2 separate regions of the Homo sapiens genome follow, and region 1 is linked to region 2. Evidence: fine-mapped expression QTL. A gene starts in region 2. The other region holds a variant in brackets. All regions are shown on one strand. Distances are from middle to middle. Region 1 overlaps SMARCA4 (SWI/SNF related BAF chromatin remodeling complex subunit ATPase 4). Region 2 holds the start of SMARCA4 (SWI/SNF related BAF chromatin remodeling complex subunit ATPase 4).

The links. PIP is the estimated chance that this variant, and not a neighbour inherited with it, causes the effect.
Region 1: its variant is fine-mapped to the expression of SMARCA4 in whole blood (TOPMed, PIP 0.92).

The regions. Positions count from the first base shown.
Region 1 is chr19:11,015,534-11,032,067 of GRCh38, forward strand. SMARCA4 (SWI/SNF related BAF chromatin remodeling complex subunit ATPase 4) reads left to right here. Exons shown (of 35, transcript NM_003072.5): 17 at 3,424-3,490; 18 at 4,058-4,168; 19 at 6,192-6,434; 20 at 7,985-8,098; 21 at 8,798-8,905; 22 at 9,889-9,975; 23 at 10,767-10,813; 24 at 12,251-12,417; 25 at 15,197-15,360. Among named protein-coding and RNA genes, the nearest start is that of SMARCA4, 63 kb to the left of the region's middle. RefSeq lists an enhancer at 12,611-13,111. The variant A/G (reference allele first, on the strand shown) is at 7,510.
Region 2 is chr19:10,955,584-10,964,715 of GRCh38, forward strand. It overlaps SMARCA4 (SWI/SNF related BAF chromatin remodeling complex subunit ATPase 4), which reads left to right and starts at 5,447. Exons shown (of 35, transcript NM_003072.5): 1 at 5,447-5,591. RefSeq lists silencers at 5,175-5,594, 5,645-5,704, 5,755-5,814 and an enhancer at 8,332-8,461.

The sequences.
Region 1 (16,534 bases), 64 kb after region 2:
CTGCTGGGTTTCCCACTGTAAACCTAGGAGTTACACTTTCCGTTAATAACTGTCTCGTGGGAACGTACTTCGACACTTGTGAATATCTCATTTCTCTTCCTACTTTCCTCAATAATTTCAGCATCTCTTCTACTCCATTTCATGTTGCCATAAAGGAATACCTGAGACTAGGTGATAAAGAAAAGAGGTTTAGCTGGGCGCGGTGGCTCACTCCTGTAATCCCAGCACTTTGGGAGGCCGAGGCAGGCGGATCACCTGAGGTCAGGAGTTTGAGACCAGCCTGACCAACATGGTGAAACCCTGTCCCTACCAAAAATACAAAAAAAAATTAGCCAGGCATGGTGGCGCATGCCTGTAATCCCAGCCACTCAGGAGGCTGAGACAGGAGAATCACTTGAACCTGGGAGACGGGGGTTGCAGTGAGCCAATATCGTGCCATTGCATTCCAGCCTGGGCAACAAGAATGAAACGCCTTCTCAAAAAAAAAAAGAGGTTTATTTGGCTCATGATTCTGCTGGCTGGAAGACTGGGCACCTGGTGAGGGCTTCAGGCGGATTCCACTCCTGGTGGAAGGCAAAGGGGAGCCAGTGTGTAGAGATCCCATGGGGAGGGAGGAGGCGAGGGAGGCGGGGGTGCCGGGCTCCTTTTAACCATAGCTCCCACGAGAGTTCAGAGAGCAGGAACTCATTCATCCCCCATCCCCAGTACAGTACAGGCCGTTCACGAGGGTTCACGAGGCCGTTCACGAGGGAGGCCCCCATGACACAGATGCCTCCCACCAGGCCCCACCTCCAACATTGGAAATCAGACTTCAGCATGAGGTTTGGAGGTGCCAGATACCCAAACTATAGCAGCAAACGTCAGATAAGTCTTGCCTGAAAAAATAATTACATGAGAGTTGCCAAATACATGGTTACCTGTTTCTGTCCGCTCTTCTCTACAAATTAATTGGAATTCCACCGTTAGGAAGAGCTTTCCCGTCTCCCCCATGTGCTTGTTTGGGTAATTATTATATCAGTGTGGGCGTGAACAAATATTATTTATTTTGTTGCTTCAGTTTTTTTCAGATTTGGCCTGGGAGAATTCTCCCTGGAAGAATTGTGTCTTCTCTATGTATTCAGTCATTTGTTAATATGAGTATGGACCCACGGATATTTATTTAGTACTCCAGGCTACGCACCAGTGGCTGGGTTTTTTTTGTTTTGTGGCTCAAATCCATCCAGCTTTGGCCACTGGGAGTGCTTTCAGTTGGCTCTTCTGTCCTTTGACACGCCCCCAGCATCGGGTGAATTTTGAGGACTTTCTTGCTTTTTGGCACCAAGAGATGCTGCAGGCTCATGTAGTCTATTTCCCGCCCACTCCCTCAAATCAGCCATTTCTCCAAGGAGCCCTGGTTTCCCTTCTTACAGAATGGTTTTGGGAACCAAGACCTGGGTCCTGGATGGGCCTGTTGCTTCTGGGGTGTCATTGCTCCTGGGGCCCTCTCAGTGGTCAGTGCTAGGAGATTCATGTGCGCGTGCTGATGCTTTGTGCACGTATCGTCTAAAAGGCCTTCTCTGCCTCGGCATCTGTTTCTGTGTTAAGCTGAACGTGAGTTCATACCACTGTCTGCGGCTCTGAGTGAGGACCACAGGTTCCTTCTCACACTTCCACCCTGTGTGTGCGCCCATTCTCAGCTTCCGTGGACAACAGTTTCAGAGTAGTGAGCCGGTACCTCCGGGAAGCATCTTGAGCCACTAGAGCGCAGGCCTTGGGGCCAGTTCCTTGTGTGTTCAGACCTCCAGATTGCAGTCAGATTCCATTTCCAGGGTGATAGAGGTCACCTTCTTCCCCTACTTCAGTGAGGTTGTGAGGTGGGTGCTCCTGCAGTCTTTCCCACTGCGCCCCACCTGGGCAAGCGTCCATGCTGTGGAACGCCAGCTCCTGCAGGCCAGAAGAGGGCCCGCGCGCTAGGAAATGTTTACGGCGTATGGGCATCCGGCTGTGCCGGCCCTCTCACTGGGAATTGCTGCCTCCTGCCATGAGCTGCTTGTCCTGCCTCCGTTTGGACCTCTGTCTCTGGGACCTGTCCCCTCAGTCCCCTCCTGACCCTTGCTCCTGGCTCTTCTCCCTCCCAGTGCAGATGCTCCGCACACCTCCGGCTTCTCCCTTGGTGCGCTGACTGTCCCCATCACTCCAGGGAGGTTTCACTGTTCCTGAGTCAGCGGAAGCACAGGGTCAGGCCCTACGGGCCAGGTCCGGTGGCTCCAAGATGCCATCAGGGACCCAGCCTCCCCCAGGTTTCTGCCCAGTCATTCTTGGGTGACTCCAACCCTCAGGCTCCTTACCTCATGGTTGCAGGACGGCTGCACTGCCTCCCTCGCCTCATGCAGGAGAGTGGGCAGGAAAGAGTTCTAGGAGAGTGGGCAGGGCAAAAGGCAGCAGAAGCGCAAGGCTGCTGAGCCTCTGCTCCCCACGCTTCTTCAGGAACTCTCCCCAGCCTTCACCACAGCCATGCGTCCTTCTGTCTATTGGCTGTGCCGCCTGGTTGGCTGTGGCTTCCAGCGGGGCTGGAGATGGGTTCATGGTGGACACAGCACCTCCCTCGTGGAGCTGCTTGGGGGCAAACCACGAGTAGTCCCTGGGACTCCAGCTTCGAGCCCTGTCTTTACGGACCACCCCGTCTAGACTTTCTGAGTGGCTTCCCTCCCCCACTGAAAACTCCCTGCCCCAGAGTTCCTCCCAGAGCCCGTCCCCTTTGGGACTCAGCTTTATTACCGCCTCCACCCTCTCCTCAGTCTCTAGGCTGTCGGTCTCAGGTGACTCACCCCTCCCCACTGCATTCTGCCTGCCCCCATGTCCTCCCTCATTCCAGCCCTGGTCATCCCACAGGGGAACAGCCACGAGTTGCCGCTCCCTCCCATCCCTGTCCTCCCGCCTGCCACCTGAGCCAGGCCCCGCCTCGCCCCTCACTGTCCTCGTTCTCTCTCACAGTCAGGAACCTTCCGTGGCTGGAGGGTGGCAGAAAGACTGTTTGGTGTCTCCTATATCCTCAGGTCTCCACAGCACTGTTGCTAGCCTGGCTCTGGGCGTGAAGCCTGTGCTCTGAAGCTGCATTTTCCCGGCAGCAGGTCCAGGCTTCCCCAGCCCTGGCAGCATTGTTTCTGTCCCCCATCACATCTCTGTGTCCCTACTTCTCACTCTAAAGGGCCTTGCCCTCTTTTCCCAGTGGCCTCCCTTCTGTCCTCTGAGGCAGAGCCCTTCACGTCCTCGCCAGTCTCTCTTCCTCCCTCCCTCCCTCAGCTGCCCTAAACACAGTTTCTCTGCCCACTCGGAGGGCTGTGGCCATGTTGGCCTCGCCCCTGACAGCCAGTGGCTATGGGTTTGCACAGTGAGCCATTGATGAGAGACCGGCACTTGACTCTCATTTCCTTGTTCCATCAGAACGCTGTCCAACTGGGCGTACGAGTTTGACAAGTGGGCCCCCTCCGTGGTGAAGGTGTCTTACAAGGTAGGTCACAGCCACTGAGGTTTCCTCTCTTGCTACGGAGGTGCAGGCGGTGGTGGGCAGGACGTCCACACATACCTCTGGACAGTGAACCTGAGAATGCTGGGTCTCCAGTCGCATGGAGTCTCCAGGACAGCCTGGAACTCCAGTCACATGGATCCGGGAGTTTGGACTGGGCAGGGACAGGGCAGATTAGCTCACTGGGGAGGAGACAGGAGTGAGCATGGTGGCCAGCACTCAGAGGCCAGCTCAGGCGCCTGAGATGGGGACCCAGGAAGAGGGGAGCCTGTCAGCCACCAGGAATGTGCAGATGGCGGTGCAGGCTGCGTGGTTCCCTCAGGCCCCGGCCGCCGCTGGCCTGCACTGCTTCCTCTTCCCCCTGCAGCGCGTGTTCTGCGTGGTGAGGTCTGGGGACGCGCCAGCGGCCCTGCCAGCCCCTTTCCCCACTACCCCTGTGAGGACGAGCCCTCCCGCCGTGTCACTGGGCAGTTGCAGGGGGTGCCTGTGCCCCTCTTGCCACCTGGCCACCCGGCTCCAAAAGCCGAGCTGTGCATCCTGCTTCCCTTGCAGGGATCCCCAGCAGCAAGACGGGCCTTTGTCCCCCAGCTCCGGAGTGGGAAGTTCAACGTCTTGCTGACGACGTACGAGTACATCATCAAAGACAAGCACATCCTCGCCAAGGTAACGTGTCCCTGTGGGAAATGCCAGGCCATGGGCCGAGTGCTCACACGTGGGTCACGCTGCCCGTCTCCTCCAAAGCCCCTACAAGTTTCTTCCCGGAGTCCCACCTGCATGTGCGTGAAGACAGCTGCCCTGTGTAGGGGAAAGGCCTAGGTGGGGGCGACCTCAGGTTTACCTCCCTAACTGTCTCCAGGCAGGCCCTGAGTCAGGCCCAGAAGCTGGGGCCATCTACACAGCATGCGCTCTGCCTCCTCTCGGGCCTTCTGCCCAGAGAGCCTCAGCACCAAGGCGTCTCCTGACCCGCCTACAGAGTCCCCATGGGGCCTTGGCCAGACCAGTCTTGTCCTCCTGTCTCATTGCCTTGGCCGTCCCTCCCTGGGGCCCTGGCTTCTCACCACAGGCCATGGGCTGAGATTCAGCATGTGGGGGAGAGCTCGAGGGCCAAATACCATGACTGCCTGCTGGCCTTGGGCAGCTGGTTCGGGCTGTTCTGTGAGGGTCCTACTGTCCTGGAAGCCTCTTCTGGGACGAAACTGTGAAGGGAGTCCCAGCGTGGCCATGACTGAGAATACGGCCCAGATAGAAAACAGACATAGCCCTCTGCCTCCAAAAACTCATGTTCCTCATTTGAGGAGGGGTAAAGATGTACCTGGTCTCACCCCTAAACATCCAGCTGAGTGAGTGTTGAACAGTAGAGAGTTTTTTGCGTTTTGGTTTTTTTTTTTTTGAGACCGAGTCTCGCTCTGTTGCCCATGCTGGAGTGCAGTGATGTGATCACAGCTCACTGCAGGCCTGACCTCCTGGCCTCAAGCGATCCTCCCACCTCACCCTCCTGAGTAGCTGGGACTACAGGTGTGCGCCACCACTCCCAGCTAACTTTTTTAAATTTATTTTTTATGGAGATGGGGTCTTGCTGTACTGCCCAGGCTGGTCTCAAACTCCTGGCCTCAAGGAATCCTCTCGCCTTGGCCTCACAAAGCACTGGGCAACTGTGTCTGGCCTAACAGTAGAGTTCTTGACCCAGGTATGGGGGGATGGAGGAGCTGTTTATGGGTGGCTCCGCCTCTCAGTGCATGGCTGGAGTGACAGTACTGGAATACTGGGGCTGTGAACTGGGTGTTTTCTTTTCTTTTTCTCTTCTTTTTTTTTTTTATTGAGACAGAGTCTCACAGCTGTCACCCAGGCTGGAGTGCAGTGGAGCGATCTCAGCTCACTGCAACAACCTCTGCCTCCTGGGTTCAAGTGATTCTCCTGCCTCAGCCTTCCGAGGACTGGGTGCTTTATCCCGGAGCCAACAAGGGAGGAAACTGAGGCCCAGGGAGCTGGGTATCCCACGTGCAGGCTCTTACCTCAGGTCCATGCTTCAGGTGCCTCCTTTGTGGCTCACCCCTGCTGACTCCTTACAAAGCCAGGCCGTTGGCAGGCACAGGAACCAGGCTCTGAAACCCCGTGCTCCCCTGCCAGTGGCTCAGTTGATGTAATCACCCTGCAGTGGGAGTGCTCTTTGAGTGCGGCCACTGCGCCCCCTCCCGACCCGCATGGCCCTGTATGTAGTGGCGCTGGCCCCTACCCCATGGGGCCCACATTCTGAACCACAGGCTGCTCATTAGAAATGTACCGTCACCAACCCAGTTCCCCTGAGACCCTCCACACCAGCAGGACAAGTCCCCCAGTCAGCAAGATGTGTCTTCTGCCAGAACGTGCTCGGCATTTTTCTGTGCTGTAGATTCATATGTGTGATTTTGCAGGGAAGCCAGATTGCTTTTTTGCAATTTGCATTGTTCACCTGCCAATAGTCATGGGGTCACGGGCCTGTCTCTGCCCAAGGCTTGCAAGAGGCTACGTTGTGTGGCTCCAACTCGGTGAGTCAGCCCCGGGGCAGGACGTCAGGCCTGTGCTCTCCACCCAGCTGCGCTCTTCCACCTGGAGCCTTCCTGGCTGCTGGGCGCAGAGTGGGAGATTCTCCCCATGTGCCGGGCCACCTGCTGCCCCCTGCCCTGATTGCCCACTCTGGGGCCCGCAGATCCGTTGGAAGTACATGATTGTGGACGAAGGTCACCGCATGAAGAACCACCACTGCAAGCTGACGCAGGTGCTCAACACGCACTATGTGGCACCCCGCCGCCTGCTGCTGACGGGCACACCGCTGCAGAACAAGCTTCCCGAGCTCTGGGCGCTGCTCAACTTCCTGCTGCCCACCATCTTCAAGAGCTGCAGCACCTTCGAGCAGTGGTTTAACGCACCCTTTGCCATGACCGGGGAAAAGGTGGGTTTGCCCAGCTGTGCCCATGCTGACGGTTCCAGGTGCGGCTGGCTTTGCTGGTTGGAACGTGTTGAGCACCAGCTACAGCTGGCTGGGCCTGTGCTGGGTGCCTGGTGAGAGTCTGCATCTGCATGGAGCAGGGGAGCCCTGGAACCCAAGGCTGGGGCAGCCACAAGGGCCCCAGGGGAGCAGGGCAGAGGTCATGGTGGTGAATCTCGGAATGCTCGGGGCGTCTCTGACCCTATGCTCCAGGTGCAGAGTGGATGGTGAGGAAGATGGCCCTGAGGCAGCTGTGGGACCGCAAGCGTGTGGAGAGCACAGCTAGAGGCTGTAGCGTGCTGTAGGCCCCTTTAGGTGCCCTCAGAACTCACCCTCAGGGCAGTGGGAAGGAAACTTGGAAGATTCCAGTTAGCGGGGCCACATGGTCAGGTTCTGTCTTACGTTGTTTTCAAAAAGCTCAGTGGCCAGTGTGTCTCAATGTCTGGGTGGCACCATCAGCCAGACTGTGGCATGGCAGCATCATCATTGATGAGTGGTCCCACACCAGCACTGATCCCTGAGCCTAGAGCTCCTTGCTGTTGGAGGTTGAAACTGTGGGACAGACTGTGTTTCCTGCTGAGGGGTTTAAGTAACCAGATGCTGAAGTGTGGGCAGAACTACAGAGGTTACCTCGAAGTGCCCTGCCCAGCACGGCTGGGCCCACCCCCTTCTTCCCACCTTAGACAGGTCCAGGGCAGCTGGGGCCTTCCTGGCCTCATGCGTGAGTTCCCTGCCCTCTCGGCTGCTGGTCAAGGCAGAGACTCTTCTGATGGCGAAACCGAGGCATTCCCCAAAGCCTCGTGATAAAGGAGTCCCCAATTTTTAGACTCCCGGGACCCCCACACTAAGGGCCAGGATCTGATGCTATAGTTTTGTCACTTTCTGAGCCGAGCAAAAGCTCTGCCAAAGGATTGCCAGGGAAGCAATAGAAGAAAAGTTTTGGCGTCGTCTCATTTTCCTTTAACTTTTTTAATTAAAACATTTTAAAAGTTAATTATTAGTAGAGGAGTAGGCGCCGTGGGAGGTCAGGGTTTCTTTC[A/G]CCTGGTTCCACCCAGGCTGAATGAGAGTCCCTTGGGGCTCCCGGTGGCAGAGCCCTCCCTGAGAATCACCCGCTATAAGCCCCATGTGGTCAGCCTGGCCCCTGCAGCGCTCCTGGCATGAGCTTGGCGTGGGGTGGGTCTGTGGACACTCCAGTTTGTGTTACTCGTGGAGAAGCAGCATGCCCGCTGCCGGGGGTCTTTCTGGTGAGGCACAGGGAGCAGAGTGCTCTGGGTACTGCGGTTCCATGTCCCAGGAATTACATGGAGGGAACCAGATCCTCACAGTTTCCTAAGGAAGAGGGTGCCCTGCCTGGCTCCCAGAAAGCATAAAGCAGGCTGAAAAGCCACGTGCCAAGGGCAAGATCACCCCAGGGGACCCCGTCCACCCTGTCCCCACATCCGCACCTTCTAGTGAGACCTCTGTCGCCCTCCTTTGGAGGTAACGCTTGCTTCTCCTGTCTTGGGGGCTTCCAGGTGGACCTGAATGAGGAGGAAACCATTCTCATCATCCGGCGTCTCCACAAAGTGCTGCGGCCCTTCTTGCTCCGACGACTCAAGAAGGAAGTCGAGGCCCAGTTGCCCGAAAAGGTGATGGAGTTTTGAGGGGAGCCACCAGTGAAGCAGCCTCACGTGGGGGCTTTCTCCAGGGCTGGGCGTGCTCAGGGCCTCTCCCCACAGTCCCAGGCCTGCCCTGGTCAATCCAGCTTGGGGGTGGCGATGACGCCACTGGGTCTGTAAAGCCCTGTGCTGCTGTTGTAGGGATTGAAAAGCACTCATAGGCTCACATAGCTCACAATAGGTTAGAGCACAAAATCCCACTTCCTGTCAGGGGGCCAGGTGCCTGTGCGGGCTCTCCTGGCCACATCAGGAGGGGCCGTGGGCTTGGGGTTGCCCCCCGGCCCCCCATCATGGCTCTGGGTTTTCAAGGCCTGCTGCAGCCACACCCCTGGGCCCAGTTCCCACAGCAAGACCCATGGACTCGGGGTCCCCGGCTGCAGTTGTCCCTCTTGGCTCTTTGTTTCCTGGCTGGCTGTAGAGAGGCCCCCAGAAGATGGCTGGGGGGCCCTTTCTGGCCCAGTAACCCTCTGGTATCTCTGCCTGGTGCTTCCTCTCATTGCCCAGGTCTCCCCTCTTCTCCCCAGCTGTGAGGGTCTCCTCACCCACACCCCAGTGTGCTCTGGTCAGAGCTCATATGACAGGGCCGAGGGGGTCAGAGCTGGGTTCGGATGGGGGGAGTCAGGCCTCAAGCCACCTTGGGCCCTCGTGAGCATTATGTGTCCCCTGCAGGTGGAGTACGTCATCAAGTGCGACATGTCTGCGCTGCAGCGAGTGCTCTACCGCCACATGCAGGCCAAGGGCGTGCTGCTGACTGATGGCTCCGAGAAGGACAAGAAGGTGGGCCCCAGAGTCCCCCAACTGCATTCCCCACTGGGTGTCCAAGGCCGGCAGCGTGGCAGGCAGAGCAGAGCGTGCTCTGACCATCGGGTCATGATCTGGTCATGATCCCCAGGGCATCTGGCCAGCCCTGGTTATGATGGCTGGTGGCTTGTGTCAGGACACACTGACTCAGCTGCCAGTGGCTTCTCCTTTGCCTATGAAACACTGGCTCCTTCTGCAATTGGCAGCCTGGGCCCAGCACTAACCCCAGCAGGGTTAGAGTGTTCTAGAATGCCCCCCTTCTCTGTTATTAAGTGAAAGGAAGGGAGCGGGCTGTCTCCTGCAGGGGCTGCTCTGAGAATCCCAGGCCCCAGGCCCCACCTGCCTGGCTCTCCTCACCAGCAGTGAAATTATCCTCCCAGGAAATGCACCAGACCCCTTGATTCTGCCCCCAAGGCCTTGACCTCGGCCTGGCTTCCCCGAGACGTTGTGTCTGTGCCCCTTCTCCCCTGAGCTGAGCAGCAGTGTGTTCCCTAGTCCATTCCCAGCCCAGAGCATGCACCCCCCGCCCCGCCCCCACCTCCTTCCTCATCCTGGAGCCCAGGGAGCCCTGAGTCATGGCTCACCCGGCTGAGGCCCTCTTGCCCAGCTGAGACCCTCTAGGGACCCCCACAGTAACAGTGCCCAGAACAAAGCTGGCATCACAAAGCATCGGGGACTCTGCCTCAGCCCTTTGCCAGTCTTGTTTCCGTCCCGTCCTGCTGGCCCTGTCCCTGCCATCTGCCCTCTGCTGTGCCAGGCAGTCATTTGTTTCCCAGGGCTTGTTGGGGGCCTCCGGGCCTCCAGCCTGCCATCTCCTCACTCCCAATTGCTGTGCCAAAAGCCACTCTTCCCCACTAGAGCGTCCCCATGGCCCTTCTCCCAACACCCACCCATCCACCAAGCCCACCCCACCCCAGGAGGGCAAGACCCCATTTGGGTCCCTCTCATCTGCCTTCCAGGGCAAAGGCGGCACCAAGACCCTGATGAACACCATCATGCAGCTGCGGAAGATCTGCAACCACCCCTACATGTTCCAGCACATCGAGGTGAGCCCGCCGCGGCTGGGACGGCTCAGGCCCTGCTGTCTGCTGAGCTCCTAGGCAGAGCTGGCTTCTCCTCGACAGCTCTTTAAAAACAGACTCGAATATTTTCATTAGGTAATGCCTGTACATCTGTCTCTCATTTGGTCTTCGCTTCACCAGTGCTTACGGGAAGAATCCCAGCAGTTAGGGCGCAACGTGCGATAGGAATATAGGGCCCTGAAAGCTTGCCCTCAGAGAGCAGGAGCGTTTGGAGACTTCTCTGGGGATGTGTCCCCCCACAGTGGGGTCCTGCTGCGTCTCTTTGGCTCACTGGCTTTTCTCACGTTGCGGGGCGTCAAGAGTCACCACCGTCTTCAGTGAAGTGTGGGGGAGTCAGAACCCTTTTTGGTCATGGTGGCTTTGAGAATCTGGGTTCTTAGAAGCATGCATATGTTCGTGTTTCTTGGTGTAAAGTGTCAGGGTCGTTGGAGACCGCCTGCTGCCCCGAGAGCCCCTGGGGCTGTCTCAGCACCCTGAGCGTGGCTGTGGCCCCATGACGTCCTCGTGCATTCAGGGTGTGAAGAGTGCTGTATGGGATGTCCTTTCCTTCGTTGGAGGAGTGTGAGGGAAAGGATGTCAGTGGACTAAGAAAGATGGTTTTGGCATCTGTGTCTGGTCTCAGAGCCGCCGTGGGCCCGTGCCGAGCACACAGTGTGGGGGCTTTGTCCTCTGAGCACGAGCGGTGTGTGCGGACCGCAGCGGGGCCCGGTGGCCTGCTCCTGCCTGTCACTGACCCCTCTCTCCTTGCCTTGCAGGAGTCCTTTTCCGAGCACTTGGGGTTCACTGGCGGCATTGTCCAAGGGTGAGAAGCTTCCCAACTGGATGGGGTGGGCAGGTGGTCCACCCAGAGGTTTTCTGTCGTTTTGTTGGCTTTATTGCTGCTGTTATGTTGTCCAATTTCAAAGGCAGAAAATTAGAAAATACAGAAGAATCCAAAGCAAATAATACAAATCTTTTTTTTTTTTTTTTTTTGAGGTGGAGTTTTGCTCTTGTTGCCCAGGCTGGAGTGCAGTGACACAATCTCGGCTCACTGCAACCTCTGCCTCCTGGGTTCAAATGATTCTCCTGCCTCAGCCTCCCGAGTAGCTGGGATTACCGGCACCTGCCACCACCCAGCTAATTTTTTGTATTTTTAGTAGAGATGGGGTTTCACCATGTTGACCAGGCTGATCTTGAACTCCTGACCTCAAGTGATCCACCCGCCTTGGCCTCCCAAAGTGCTGGAATTACAGGTGTGAGCCACCGCGCCCGGCCCCATTATACAAATCTTTAGTGCTTGGAGAGCTGACCACTATTAACCCCAAGAGACAGGATTCCTGAGGCAGACCTGGCTTACAGATCCCACTCTGCCGCCTCCAAGCTCTGTGACTCTAGACAGCTTTCTTAACCTCTCTGAGCCTAAACTCTGCTCACTAGTACAGAGGCACTCTTTACATCATGTGGGTGTTTTCTATAGCACCCTTTGTAAGGGGCAGCCCAGACTCCTTTAAGCCCCTAATGGATGTGGATGCTGTGTCTAGATTTTCACCATTGCAAAGAACCTTGCTAAAAGCATTCTTCCAGCTAAAGCCTCCATTCAATTCCCCTGGGGTAGTAAGCCATTTGCAAGAAGAGAGGCGCCTAATGAAAACATCACAAATTCTTTTTGATGTGTTTTTTTATACTGAGTTGTGGAACAGGGTCCTGTACACCTGGCTTCAAGGCTGGGAGGCCTGGCTTGGACATGTGGTCAGCCATATCACGTCGTCCCCCTGCCAGCCTCAGTGTCCACATCTACAACACTTGGGGTTTGGCTGGAGAGAACATGAGAAGCCGAGGTGGCCCTTCCTTCTGGGTCTAGCAGAGCATGGGTGTCTCCAGTGTGGCATTTGCTCCTGGGGCTTCTTTATCGGGCAAGGGGACAAGGTCTGGCTTCCCGGAGCATCCCTGTTCCAGCCCCGTGTTGTGCCGGCCATGTGACTCACAGCTCCTCTCATTTTCATGAGTGTCTGGGTTTGACGAGAAATACATGTGCCACCCTGGTGATACGCCTCCCCAGCGAGGGTGGCCGGGCTTATTTCAGTTGGGGGAAATGGCTTTGCTGAAGCTTTGGGTGGGTGACGTCTGCTTAGGATGCATGTCTGTGCCCTTGAACCCGGCGCCTGGCCTGGAGGCGGGCGATGCACCTCCTGCCTTACCTGCCTGCAGGGTTCCAGGTTTAACATCCTGCGCCTTCTCTCCTGCCTCCTCCACACTCCAGGCTGGACCTGTACCGAGCCTCGGGTAAATTTGAGCTTCTTGATAGAATTCTTCCCAAACTCCGAGCAACCAACCACAAAGTGCTGCTGTTCTGCCAAATGACCTCCCTCATGACCATCATGGAAGATTACTTTGCGTATCGCGGCTTTAAATACCTCAGGCTTGATGGTGAGTATGAGCCAGTGAGGCGTTTCTTACAGGGTTTTGTTGTTGTGGCTGCCACAGAAGCTCCTCACTGGCATTCCCTCCTGTGAGGCAGGGTGAGGCCCAGGCGCTCTGGGTCCAGTGGCCAGAGTGGGCCTAGCCACAGGCTGAGCATCTTGGGCACTCGGCACTGGGACAGGCCGTGGATTGGACGCCGGGTGTCCTGACTCCTAGGCTGACAGTCTTTCCACGACAATGCTGGGCGCACTGGGGAAGGGGTGCCCTGTGCACTTTTAGCTGGAAGTGACAGAATTCCATACCATGTGGACACAGGAAAGAAAGCACCAATAGGCTTACATAGCTCTAACCCCAGGAGGTTAAACATCCTTCAGGCACAGCTGGATCCAGGCATGCAGGTGATATTGGAGAGACTTTTCTCCAGCTCTTTGCTCTGCCTTCTTCCATCTTGGCTTCCTTTCCACCTGCTCAGTGTCCCCAACAAAGGCAGGTCCCAGGCTGGCTCTCATTTAGCTGCTGTGAGCCGCATGCCCATCCCTGGGCCATTCGTAGCAGCCCAGTGACTGCCACCTTGCCACAGGTCAGGCCTGGACCTGGAATCAGACTCTGTGGTGAGCACGGAGGGAGGGAAGCAAGCACTGCCAGGCAGGAGCAGCAGCTGCCGTAGAGAGGCTCTCAGCCCAACCCCCTGCCCTGCGGTCCCTGATGGGAAAGGTCACCGCCTGTGTTTCTGCGCCTGCCTGCCCCAGCACACGGGAGCTCAGGGAGGAGAGGCTGTGAGATGCCGACAGGGCACGTGAGACATGTCTGTCAGTCCCAGTGGGTCAGGGAGCCCTGGAGTGAGTTCTTCGTGGGAGTTACTAGAACTGGGCTTACGAGAAACACGAGCATGAGCTGCTGAGACAGACACGGCTCAGCCAGTTTGTTGTTCCCTACACGACCTCCCAGAGCCTTTGTTGAAGCTCCTGTGCAAGGTCTGTCTCACAGCAGGACACCCCAGACCTCCATACCCCTTGTCCCGTTGATCACTTGGACCTGTGTTTGCTGGGCCAACCTGCCCAGGTGCCACCCGGAGTGTGCCCTGTGTGTCCCTCCAAACTGCAGGTCCTCCCCGGGGTTCTGTCCAGGACCACTCTACAGACACGAGTCTGTTGCAGGGGTCTCCCCGGCTTGCCTTCTTCCTTGGGGGCTTCCCACTTTCAGCTTTGAGGCTGAAAACCAAAATCCTTCAGGGTCCTCATGGCCGGGCCACCCCCCACCCTTTCCTCTCCTACGGTCTCTCCAGCGGCTTCTCCCGTCCTCGAGAGGGCCAAGGCTTCCTGAGGGCCATCCCGTCTGTGTCGTGTCCCTGACTCCCCCAGGAGAGAGCCTGGTTCCCACCCATCCCAGTGCCCTTCTGCCTACTCCATAAGGACAAGGACTTTGGTCAGTTGAACTACAGATGTGTCCTCTGCATGTGATGTGGTCATGGCCACAGGGCCAGAGAATCCATTGCGAGTAGAGGAAGGGTAGGAGCTCAGTGAAGTCTCCTGAGACTGCATCTCCCATGGGTGGGCTGGCATCTGGGAGCCGGGTGGCCCCTCACCTCAGCCCCTCCTCCGAGCTGGAGTAGCAGGGGCACATCTGGTGCCTGAGAGAGGGTGGGACGGCAGGTGGATGGCCAGGCTACTGTGGGCTTCTGCACCGTGCCTGGGCATGTGTAGGCTGGTGGCAGGAAATGGCCAGTTTTTATTTCTTCTTTTTTTTGAGACGGAGTTTCACTCTTGTTGCCCAGGCTGGAGTGCAGTGGCATGATCTCAGCTCACTGCAACCTCCGCCGCCTGGATTCAAGCGATTCTCCTGCCTCATCCTCCCTGGTATCTGGGATTACAGGCGCCCGCCACTACGCCCAGCTAATTTTCTTGTATTTTTAGTAGAGACGGGGTTTCACCATGTTGGCCAGGCTGGTCTCGAACTCCTGTCCTCAGGCGATCCACCCACCTCAGCCTCCCAAAGTGTTGGGATTACAGGCATGAGTCACCGCGCCCGGCCTGCCAGTTTTTATTTCATCACCAAAATGACTTCAGTGTTCAGGGGCACCTCTGTCCGAACTCCCAGCAGCGCAGGGAGTGTTGACATTGCCTTAATGCCCACAACGCTGAGGGCATCGTGGGTTGTCACCCAGGAGACCTGCTCTGGCTCCTTGACTTGGGTTTTCTGGGGCATGGGGACACTGATCCTGCCAGAAAGGACACGAGCCCCCTTTATAAGGTCTCCATGCTTTTACCGTAGAAGATTCTCTTTGTGAACCACAAAACTTTTTGAGACAGGGCTGAAGGCAGGTGCACCCACAGTCACTGTCCACCCACCCCCAGGTCCCTTGTGTTGCGAGCGGCGGTGTTGCCGGCATTGGCCGCTGTGTCTTCCGCTCCCCATGGAATGGCACAGGGTAGAGTAGAGGAGAGAATCCAGGGCTGTGGTGGTGGTGGCTGTGCTGACGCTGGACGCTGTGGCCTAGCTGTGGGCTGGGTGCTGGACTCTGTGCTCCAGGCCCACCTCCTCTAGTTCTCCCAGCGGGGCCTGTTTTCATTTCTGGGATGTGTGGAGAGACGTTTTGTGGTGAAACACTGGAAATCCAGTTATTCGCCAGTGGCCCACAGGCCCGTGTGGAGAGTGCGGAGCCAGGGATCTGGGGATGCTGGCAGGTGCTGATCCTGCTCCTGCTCTCAGAAGCAGGTGTTCCTTGGTGTCCCCACTCTACCCCTGAGGTCACCCCGCTGACCCTGTTCTCCTCTGTGCCCGTCAGGAACCACGAAGGCGGAGGACCGGGGCATGCTGCTGAAAACCTTCAACGAGCCCGGCTCTGAGTACTTCATCTTCCTGCTCAGCACCCGGGCTGGGGGGCTCGGCCTGAACCTCCAGTCGGCAGACACTGTGATCATTTTTGACAGCGACTGGAATCCTCACCAGGTAAAAGCGGGCCGGGCCCCAGGTCGAGGAGAAGGAAGGGGGTGCCTGCAAAACCTCGAGGAGACGGCCCTGGCTTGAGGGTCCTCCAGCCTCCTCCACATTGTCTTGGACCCCAGGAGCCGGGAGGAGCTGCACCCATATCTCCATAGGTCATCAGGGAGAAAAGAGGCGGGGTCCTCCTGTTTCCCAAAATACAAACAGCCTTTCCCTCTGATTGGGAAAGCAGTGTATAAGCCATCCGTCGGTTTGGTTTTTCTTAAATCTTGGAATGGCACCCATGAGGAGGTGGAAAGTATCCTGATCAATCTGCGCCGTCACTGTGGGGCGGCCCCTGCAGTGTGCCCTGTGAGCACACACACTGGCGCTTGTTCAGACACAATTGGGGGTAAACTCCATGCCACTTCGTTTACTTCCTCCTCTTGTTCCATAACCATGTACCCCTCATGGGCCTCGGCATCGGTGGATACCAGGTCATGCTGTTACATAGCTACAAGAATTTGAAAATGAGTTAAACTTTTCTCTGTGTTTCATTATAAGACTGATAAGTTCTTATTGTTTTTAACATGTAAACACCAGTGACAGTCAGGAGTCCCTTTTCCCTTCCTCTCCAACCGTGCTCTCTTCTGAGCCTCTGCCAGCCCATCTGCCTTCGCACATGTATGTACTGAGATTAACACAGATGCGGCGTGGCCTAGCATGTGCCTCTTCCACCAAGCAGTGGGTGTCAACCGCCGAGTGCACATCGGAAGCTACCCAGCCATCTAATCGGCCACCAGGCGTCCCGGCAGATGGCCACCCCTGGACGTCTGCTCTCAAACTCTGGTTGGCAGGCATCCGTCTTTTCTGTTGATCAGCCTGGTCACCAACCCAGCAGGGTCCCTCTTTCTCTCAGAGTGCTTGTGCAAACACCCTAGGTCTGCGCAGCCCTCAGACATGGGGTCGCTCCACCCCAGACATTGTCCTCTTCGTGTTCTGGTTGCTACTGCCAAAGTGGTTTCACTCCTACGCTGGGGTGTGAATGTACCCTGCCCTTCCCTGCAGCGTGAGGGCAGCAGCGTTCTCAGTGTGTAAATTGTCGCTTGTCTGATGGGTGAATGCCGTGGTGGTCACTGGTGGCCCCTTTTACGATCAGGCTGGGGTGTAGCTTCTGCCCAGACCCTGGTGACCAGCCAGT
Region 2 (9,132 bases):
AGGCTGGTCTTGAACTCCTGGGCTCAAGCAATCTGCCCGTCTCAGACTCCCAAAATACCAGGATTACAGGTGTGAGCCACTGTGCCCAGGCACAAGAGGTCATTTTTGATGAATAAATGCACATTTTGTTAACTAATGAGTGATTTCATATTCCAAGGAAGATCTGGAGATATTACTGAAAAGGTGTTTAACTTGCAGTGGCAACTGAAGTCAATGTATTTTACATTTTCATGTTCTGGACTTGGGTGAGTTGTTATTTCAAGCCCTCATCTTTGAGTAAAAGAGAAGAATCCACCTGTAATCCCAGCCACTCAGGAGGCTGAGGTAGGAGAATCTCTTGAACCTGGGAGGTGGGAGGTGGAGGTTGCAGTGAGCCAAGATTGAGCCACTGCACTCCAGCCTGGGTGACAGGGCAAGACTCCGTCTCAAAAAACAAAAAAAAAAAAAAAAAAGAAGAAGGCCGGGCGCAGTGGCTCATGTCTGTAATCCCAGCACTTTGGGAGGCCAAGGTGGGCAGATAACGAGGTCAGGAGATCGAGACCATCCTGGCTAACACGGTGAAACCCCGTCTCTACTAAAAATACAAAAAATTAGCCTGGCGTGGTGGCGGGCACCTGTAGTCCCAGCTACTCAGGAGGCTGAGGCAGGAGAATGGCGTGAACCTGGGAGGCGGAGCTTGCAGTTAGCGGAAATTGCGCCAAAAAAAAAAAAAAAAAAATCCATTCTCCTCTGGGATGATTCCCCTCCCCCACTTCCCGTTCCCTCCTCTCCCCTCCCCTCCCCTGCCCTGCCCTCTCCTCCCCTTCTTTTTTTTTTTTTTTTGAGATGGAGTCTCTGTCGCCCAGGCTAGAGTGCAGTGGTGTGATCTTGGCTCACTGCAACCTTCGCCTCCTGGGTTCAAGCGATTCTCCTACCTCAGCCTCCCGAGTAGCTGGGACTACAGGTGCTTGACACCACACCTGGCTAATTTTTGTATTTTAATAGAGACGGGGTCTCTCTTTTTTTTTTTTTTTTAGAGACAGACTCTCGCTCTGTCGCCCAGGCTGGAGTGCAGTGGCGGGATCTCAGCTCACTGCAAGCTGTGCCTCCCGGGTTCACGCCATTCTCCTGCCTCAGCCTCCTGAGTAGCTGGGACTACAGGCGCCTGCCACTACGCCTGGCTAATTTTTTTGTATTTTTAGTAGAGACGGGGTTTCACTGTGTTAGCCAGGATGGTCTCGATCTCCTGACCTCGTGATCTGCCCGCCTCGGCCTCCCAAAGTGCTGGGATTACAGGTGTGAGCCACTGCGCCCAGCTGAGACGGGGTTTCACCATATTGACCAGGTCTCGAACTCCATATTGACCTTGCGATCCCAGAGAAAGTGCTGGGATTACAGGCGTGAGCCACCGTGCCTGGTTGAGACAGGGTTTCACCATATTGACCTGGTCTCGAGCTCCTGACCTTGTGATTTGCCTGCCTCGGCCTCCTAAAGTGCTGGAATTACAGGCGTGAGCCACTGCGCCCAGCCTGTAGATGTTTTTTTTTTAAAGTCTGGAAGCCAAGGGTGTCAATGCAGACATGGGGCCAAGGTCCCAGGGGCAGTTCATTATTAAGAACTGTGCTCTTAATTGAGACACCTGGCAAATTTTGTATTGCTTTGTAGAGATGGGGTTTCACAATGTTACCCAAGCTGGTCTTGAACGCCTGTCCTCAAGTGATCTGCCAGCCTGGGCCTCCCAAAGTACTGCCATTATAGGCATGCATGAGCTACCACAACCGGCCTGTTTTTCTTTTTTGAGACGGAGTTTCGCTCTTGTTGCCCAGGCTGGAGTGCAACGGCATGATCTCAGCTCACCGCAACCTCTGCCCGCTGGGTTCAAGCGATTCTCTTGCCTCAGCCTCCCAAGTAGCTGGGATTACAGGCATGCACCACCACACCCGGCTAATTTTGTATTTTTTTAGTAGAGACAGGGTTTCTCCACGTCGGTCAGGCTAGTCCTGAACTCCTGACCTCAGGTGATCCGCCTGCCTCGGCCTCCCAAGTGCTGGGATTACAGGCGTGAGGCACCGCGCCTGGCCCGGCCTGTTTTTCTTTACACTATTGCATATTAGTGTGATTAGCATAAAAGACAATTAGAGAACAGTCATACCATCCACTCCATGGGCAGCAACCCTGCCTCCTCCATGCATTGCTGCAGGGTATTCCTAGCTCAATGCTTAGCATTTGGAGAGAGCATAAGAAATACTATTTGGCCGGGCGCCTTGGCTCACGCCTGTAATCCCAGCACTTTGGGAGGCTGAGGTGGGAGGATCACCTGAGCCCAGGAGTTTGAAACCAGCCTGGACGACATAGTGTGACTGTCTCTACAAAAAATTTTAAGAAAATTAGCTGAGTGTGGTGTCCCACCCTTGTAGTCCAAGCTACTCGGGAGGCTGAGGCAGGAGGATCGCTTGAGCCCAGGAGGTCGAGGCTACAGTGAGTACTGATCGTGCCACCGCAGTCCAGGCTGGATGACCCAGCAAGCCTGTGTCTCAAAAACAAAAACAAAAAAACAAAAAAATAACTACTTGAATGAATGAGGAATCGAGTTCAGATCCCACTTCTACTTGCTCACTTACTGTGCACTATTCAATAACACTAGCTGAGGATCAGAGAGCTAGCAGGTGGGCTACCTGCTGTCATGATTCCTCATAACCAAACAGTGGAAGTGGGAGCCATTATTGTTTCTGGTGGGTTTTTTTTGTTTTGTCTTGTTTTGTTTTTGAGACGGAATCTCCCTCTGTCACCAGGCTGGAGTATAGTGGCACGCTCGACTCACTGCAACCTCCGCCTCCTGGGTTCATGCAATTCTGCCTCAGCCTCCTGAGTAGCTGGCACTACAGGCACGCGCCACCACAGCCAGCTAATTTTTGTATTTTTAGTAGAGATGGTGTTTCACCACATTGGCCAGGATGGTCTCAATCTCTTGACCTCATGATCCACCTGCCTTGGCCTCCCAAAGTGTTGGGATTACAGACGTGAGCCACTGGGCCCAGCATTTTTTTTTTTTTTTTTTTTTTTTGAGATGGAGTTTTACTCTCGTCACCCAGGCTGGAGCGCAATGACATGATCTTGGCTCACTGTAACCTCCACCTCCTGGGTTCAAGAAATTCTCCTGCCTCAGCCTGCCGAGTAGCTGTGATTACAGGCACCTGCCACTATGCCTGGCTAATTAATTTTTTTGTATTTTTAGTAGAAACGGGGTTTCACCATGTTGGCCAGGCTGGTCTCGAACTCCTTACCTCAGGTCATCTGCCCACCTTGGCTTCCGAAAGTGCTGGGATTACAGATGTCAGCCACCGCACCCAGCCTTATTGTTTGTTTCACAGGTGAAGAAAGTGAGGTGTAGATGCTCTGGTAAACCTGCCTGGTATTACCCATGCATCACCCAGGTAGTAGAAATGGAGTCGTGTTTTAAACCCAGGTCCTTCTGGGGCCTGGCTTGGTGGCTCATGCCTGTAATCCCAGTGCACTGGGAGGCTGAGCCAGGAGGACTGCTTGAGCCCAGTAGTTTGAGACCAGCTTGGGTAACACAGCAGACCTCAGCTCTACAGAACATAACAGACAAAAAAAAAAAAAAAAAAAAAAAGCTGGTGGTGGTGGCATGTACCTGTAGTCACAGCTATTTGGGAGGCTGAGGTGGATCCCTTGAGTCCAGGAGTTTGAGGCTGCACTGAGCTGTGGTTACACCATTGCACTCCAGCCTGGGTTACAGAGCAAGACCCTGTCTCTAATAAAACAAACAATTAAACAAAAACCCACCCAGGTGAGGTGGCTCACGCCTGTAATCCCAACACTTTGGGAGGCTGAGGTGGGCGGATCACTTGAGGTCAGGAGTTAAAAACCAGCCTGGCCAACATGGTGAAACTCTGTCTCAACTAAAAATACAAAAATTAGCCGGGCGTGGTGGCGGACGCCTGTAGTCCCAGTTACTCGGGAGGCTGAGGCAGGAGAATCGCTTGAATCTGGGAGGCAGAAGTTGCAGTGAGCTGAGATCGTGCCACCTCACTCCAGCCTGGGCAATGGAGTAAGACTCCGTCTCAAAACAAACAAACAAACAAACAAACAAACAAACAAACACACAAAAAAGAAAACACACAGAAGAGGCCAAGAGGCTCAGGGCCTTCACTCTCGGAGGAAGGTTTCTCTCTTTCACCACCAGCCTGTATGCATTCAAACGTGTTCTTTGCAACGACGACTTCCGTGGCTGCCCTATTTAAAATGTCCATGATCCTCCCAGTGTTCACCTCACACTGTACTATTTATTTTTTTTGAGACGGAATTTCACTCTTGTTGCCCAGGCTGGAGTGCAATAGTACGATCTCGGCTCACTACAATCTCCACCTCCTGGGCTCAAGCGATTCTCCTGCCTCAGCCTCCCGAGTAGCTGTGACTACAGGCGTGTGCCACCACGCCCGGCTAATTTTTTGTATTTTTAGTAAAGACGGGGTTTCACCGTGTTAGCCAGGATAGTCTCATCTCCTGACCTCATGATCCACCAGCCTAGGCCTCCCTAAGTGCTGGGATTACAGGCATGAGCTACCGCGCCCGGCTAATTTTTGTATTTTTAATAGAGACGGGTTTCACCATGGTGGTCAGGCTCGTTTCTAACTCCCGACCTCAGGTGATCCGGCCGCCTCGGCCTCCCAAAGTGCTGGATTACAGGCGTGAGCCACCAAGTCCGGCCTCTCATACTGCACTATTTTGCTTATTAATCTTGCTTCTTGTCCTCCTTCCCCACTAGACCGAGGGCTCCACGGCGGCTGGGACACAGTAGCAGATCAATAAATATTTGCTAAGCTAATTAATGGCACTTGGGAAGTTTTGCAGAGAAGGCGGCCACGGTCGGGCCCCGCCTTGCCTCCCCAAATAGGCCTCGCCGCCCCAGGTCAGGGATCAAAGCGGTTCCCAGGCGCGCCCTTGGCCCGCGGGAAACCACTGCCCGGTCTTGGTCCAGGCGGCCCGTCCTACGGTCCAGGGTTCCTATTTCCGAGCCTCAGGGACCTCCTTTCCCCACGGACCCCACGGCCACCGGGATCCCATTCTCCAGTTGCCCCATCGTCACCGCGGCCGCCGCCACCGCCGCCGCAGTGGCGTCCGCTCTGCGCATGCTCCGGGGCGTCAAGACGCGAGGCGTGCAGAAGGCGAAGCGTGCGCAGGCGCGGGGCCATCGCGGCCCGAGTGGGGCGGTGCATCGGACGCGCGTGCTTCCTCCGGGCCACGCCCACCCCCGTCCGCCCAGGGACGGGCGCGCACGCGCGCCGGGAGCGGAAGGGCGGGCTGGCGCGCGCACGAGGCCGGGCAGGCGGCGGAAGCTGGAGAGGCCGCCGCGGTGCTGAGGGGGAGGGGAGCCGGCGAGCGCGCGCGCAGCGGGGGCGCGGGTGGCGCGCGTGTGTGTGAAGGGGGGGCGGTGGCCGAGGCGGGCGGGCGCGCGCGCGAGGCTTCCCCTCGTTTGGCGGCGGCGGCGGCTTCTTTGTTTCGTGAAGAGAAGCGAGACGCCCATTCTGCCCCCGGCCCCGCGCGGAGGGGCGGGGGAGGCGCCGGGAAGTCGACGGCGCCGGCGGCTCCTGGTAAGGAACGCGGGCCGCGGGGGCAGCGCGGCGCGGGGCCGGGGAGGGCGGTTTGAATGGAGCCGGGGCGCCGAGGGGGGAGGGGGCTGCCGGCGCGCCCTGTGCGGGGCCGGGGTACGGCGGCGCCCGAGGGTCAAGAAGCCCAGCCGGCAGCCGCGCGCGTGGGGAAGGCCACAGTGTCGCGAGGCCGTGGCAGCGGCGGCCCCCGCGGAGCGGCGGGGTGGGTGGGGGGCCCGGGCCGCGTGGAGGCCGCGCGATCCTCTCCGCGCGCGCTCTCGCCGGGGTCGCCGGACAAAGCTCGCCCCCCTCGCCCGGCACCCCTACAGTCGCCCTCCCAATTACAGCGGCTGCAACAATAGGCAGGCGTTGGGGCTTTTCTGGCTGCGTGGTAACGGGTCCGACCCGAATGTTGCGTTTTTGGCGAAGCTGCGATCGGGGCTCAGCCAAACCTCCAGATATGTCCGGCGTCGGCCGGACACGGGCATTAGCGGTCCCCTTGGGCTAGCCGACCTCAAATTGTCTTAAAAACGTGTCATTCCAGATTTTCAAGGAAAGGTAAAGGACTCCCCCGATGCCTTGCAGTTAGTGACTTCAAAATGTTTGCCCGAATTGGGGTTGGGGATGGGGTCGGCGGCAAGTAGGGGAGCACGGAGGAAATCCTTTGCTGTGTAAAAGCATTGCTTTTCTTTTGCATCCTTTTTTCTCCTTCCCAATTGGTTTTTCAGATTAAGGCTTTTATTTTCAACGTGGACCTTTTGGGCGAGTGTTTTGTCCCGATCTTGAAGATACCAGTCTTGATTTTTTTTTTTTTTTTTTTTGGTCAGTGACTCCTTGGGGAAAGTAGCAAGGGAATAAGCGGAAAAGCCGCTTCGCAGGAATTTGAAGCAAGTTTTCAGTTTGGATTGATAGGCTGCATTCAAGCTTGATTCCTGGTGCTGTCAGTCACTTAGCACACTGTCACTTTAGGGAAGTGGCTTAACCTCTCTGAACCTCTTAGTTTTCCTCCTTTGTGAAAGCTCCTTTGTGAAAGGGGGTAATCTCCCAAATGGAATTGGTGAAAGCCTGTAAAATGGTTCCTCGCAAGCGGGAAGCACTATTGTAATTGTCTGGTCCAATCTCCCTCATTGTTCAGCAGATAACTTCTTGAGGCCCTACTAAGTGTTGGATGGTCGGGGGTTGGATCCTGGAGCCTCTGCAGTCTTGGAGGGGAGCGGGTGGTAAATGTGGGAACAAACTCTCTTGGCCTATCGTTTATTGCTCTGAACCTGCACTGTGAGAGGGACACAGCGGACAGGCAGGGGATCGGTGGTAGCCAGAGATCACGGGGGCTGCTTGGAAGAGGGGGCCTCAAAATCAGGGAGGGTGTGTAGGATTGTATTTTGTTTTTGAGGCAGAGTCTTGCCTGTCGCCCAGGCTGGAGTTCAGAGTCCCAATCTCCGCTCACTGTAACCTCCGCCTCCTGGGTTCAAGCGATTCTCCTGCCTCAGCCTCCTGAGTAGCTGGGACTACAGGCGCCCGCCACCACGCCTGGCTAATTTTTGTATTTTTAGTAGATATGGGGTTTTACCATGTTGGCCAGGCTGGTCTCAAACTCCTGACTTAAGGTGATCCACCCACCTCGGCCTCCCAAAGTGCTAGGACTACATGTGTGAGCCACTGCGCCAGGATTGTATTTTGACTTTCCCTGGCCACCTCGGACTAGCCATTGTTCCCCTCAGCTACATTCATACATCAACTTGGTCCTTTCCGGTGTAGCTGTCACCCCCAGCACCGTGAGAGCTGGGGTTGTGTCTGCCTGGCTGGCCCCACAGTACCCTGGGCCTGACACATAGTAGGTCTTTAGCGAACTTATGTGGATTGAATGAGGGGGTCCTGTGGAAGATCGCGTGACCATCTGTGTAAAAGGCTTGGTGCAGGGCCAGGTGCAGTGGCTCATACCTGAAATCCCAGCACTTGGGGAGGCTGAGGCGGGAAAATTGCTTGAACCCGGGAGTTTGAGACTAACCTGGGCAACATAGTGAGACCTCATCTCTACAAAAAATACAAAAATTAGCCGAGTGTGGTGGCATGCACCGGTGGTCCCAACTACTCAGGAGGCTGAGGTAGGAGGACTGCTTGAGCCAGAGAGGTGGAGGCTGCAGTGAGCCATTCTTGTGCCCCTGCATTCCAGCCTGTGCACCAGAGTAAGACTGTCTCAAAAAAAAAAAAAAAAAAAAAGAAAAAGAAAGCTTGGTGCAGGACTGGGGGTGGATTGTAAGGGATACAGGTTAGTTGTTTGAACAGTTTTTGCACTTTCCAAGCCATTGTTTCCTGAACCTCAGTTGTCCTCATCTCCCCTACAAAGTGTGGGGTGGTGGTTAGCGTGGGGTGGTGGTAAGGAGTACTCATTCTGGAATCAGACCTCCTGAATTCACACCCAGCTCTCTAAATCGTAGCTTAACCTCAAGCGAGGCGCTTAGCAGTAGGGCCCCCCACTTGTGAAACAGGTAGGACGAGGATGCCCGAAACTTCACAGGCTTCTTGTGAGGGTTGAATGAGGTCACATGGGAAGCCGCTAACACACTGCTGCACCTGATGCGTAGTGAACACTTGATTTTTTTTTTTTTTTTGAGACGGAGTCTCGCTCTGTCATCCGGGCTGGAGTGCAATGCCCCTGTAGTCCCAAGCTCCTTGAGAGGCTGGGGCAGGAGGTACAGGCTGCAGTGGACCATGATTGAGCCACTGCACTCCAGCCTGGGTGACGAAGCGAGACCCTGTCTAAAAAAAGGAATAAAAATTAATTCATGCATAGTTAGGAAAGTAATAAATGGTTTTGCATGGGCCACCTAAAATCATTTTGTGTCCAGCCCTTTAGGAGACGTAAATGTTGATCGTGCAGGCTTTTGAGCAGGGGAGGTGATGTCATCAGAATTGTGATATAGGGCAGTGCAGTGGTCTCTAAACTTCTTGTCAGTGAGGAGCATTCCAACATATGTGTATTTATTTACAATTTATTTGTGTACCTTTGCTTCTCCTTGGGAACCCTCAAAACACCAGGAGATAACCTTAGACCATTCCATGTTTTGGCTGTTTGTGGGAGGTGGGAGCATGGGAGGGACTAGGGTTTTGGGCAGATGTCTGGTGGAACTTTCTTTCTTTCTTTCTTTTTTTTTTGAGACGGAATCTTACTCTTGTTGCCCAGGCTGGAGTGCAATGGCACGATCTCGTCTCACTGCAACCTCTGCCTCCCGGGTTCAAGCGATTCTTCTGACTCAGCCTCCTGAGTAGCTGGGATCACAGGTGTGCACCACCACACCTGGCTAAGTTTTGTATTTTTAGTAGAGATGGGATTTCATCATGTTGGCCAAGCTGGTCTTGAACTCCTGACCTCAACTGATCCACCCACCTTGGCCCTTGGCCTCCCAAAGTACTGGGATTACAAGTATGAGCCACCGCGCCCGGCCTCTTTTTTTTTTTTTCTTATGAGACAGAGTCATTCTGTCGCCCAGGCTGGAGTGCAGTGGTGCGATCTTGACTCACTGCAACCTCCGCCTCCTGGTCT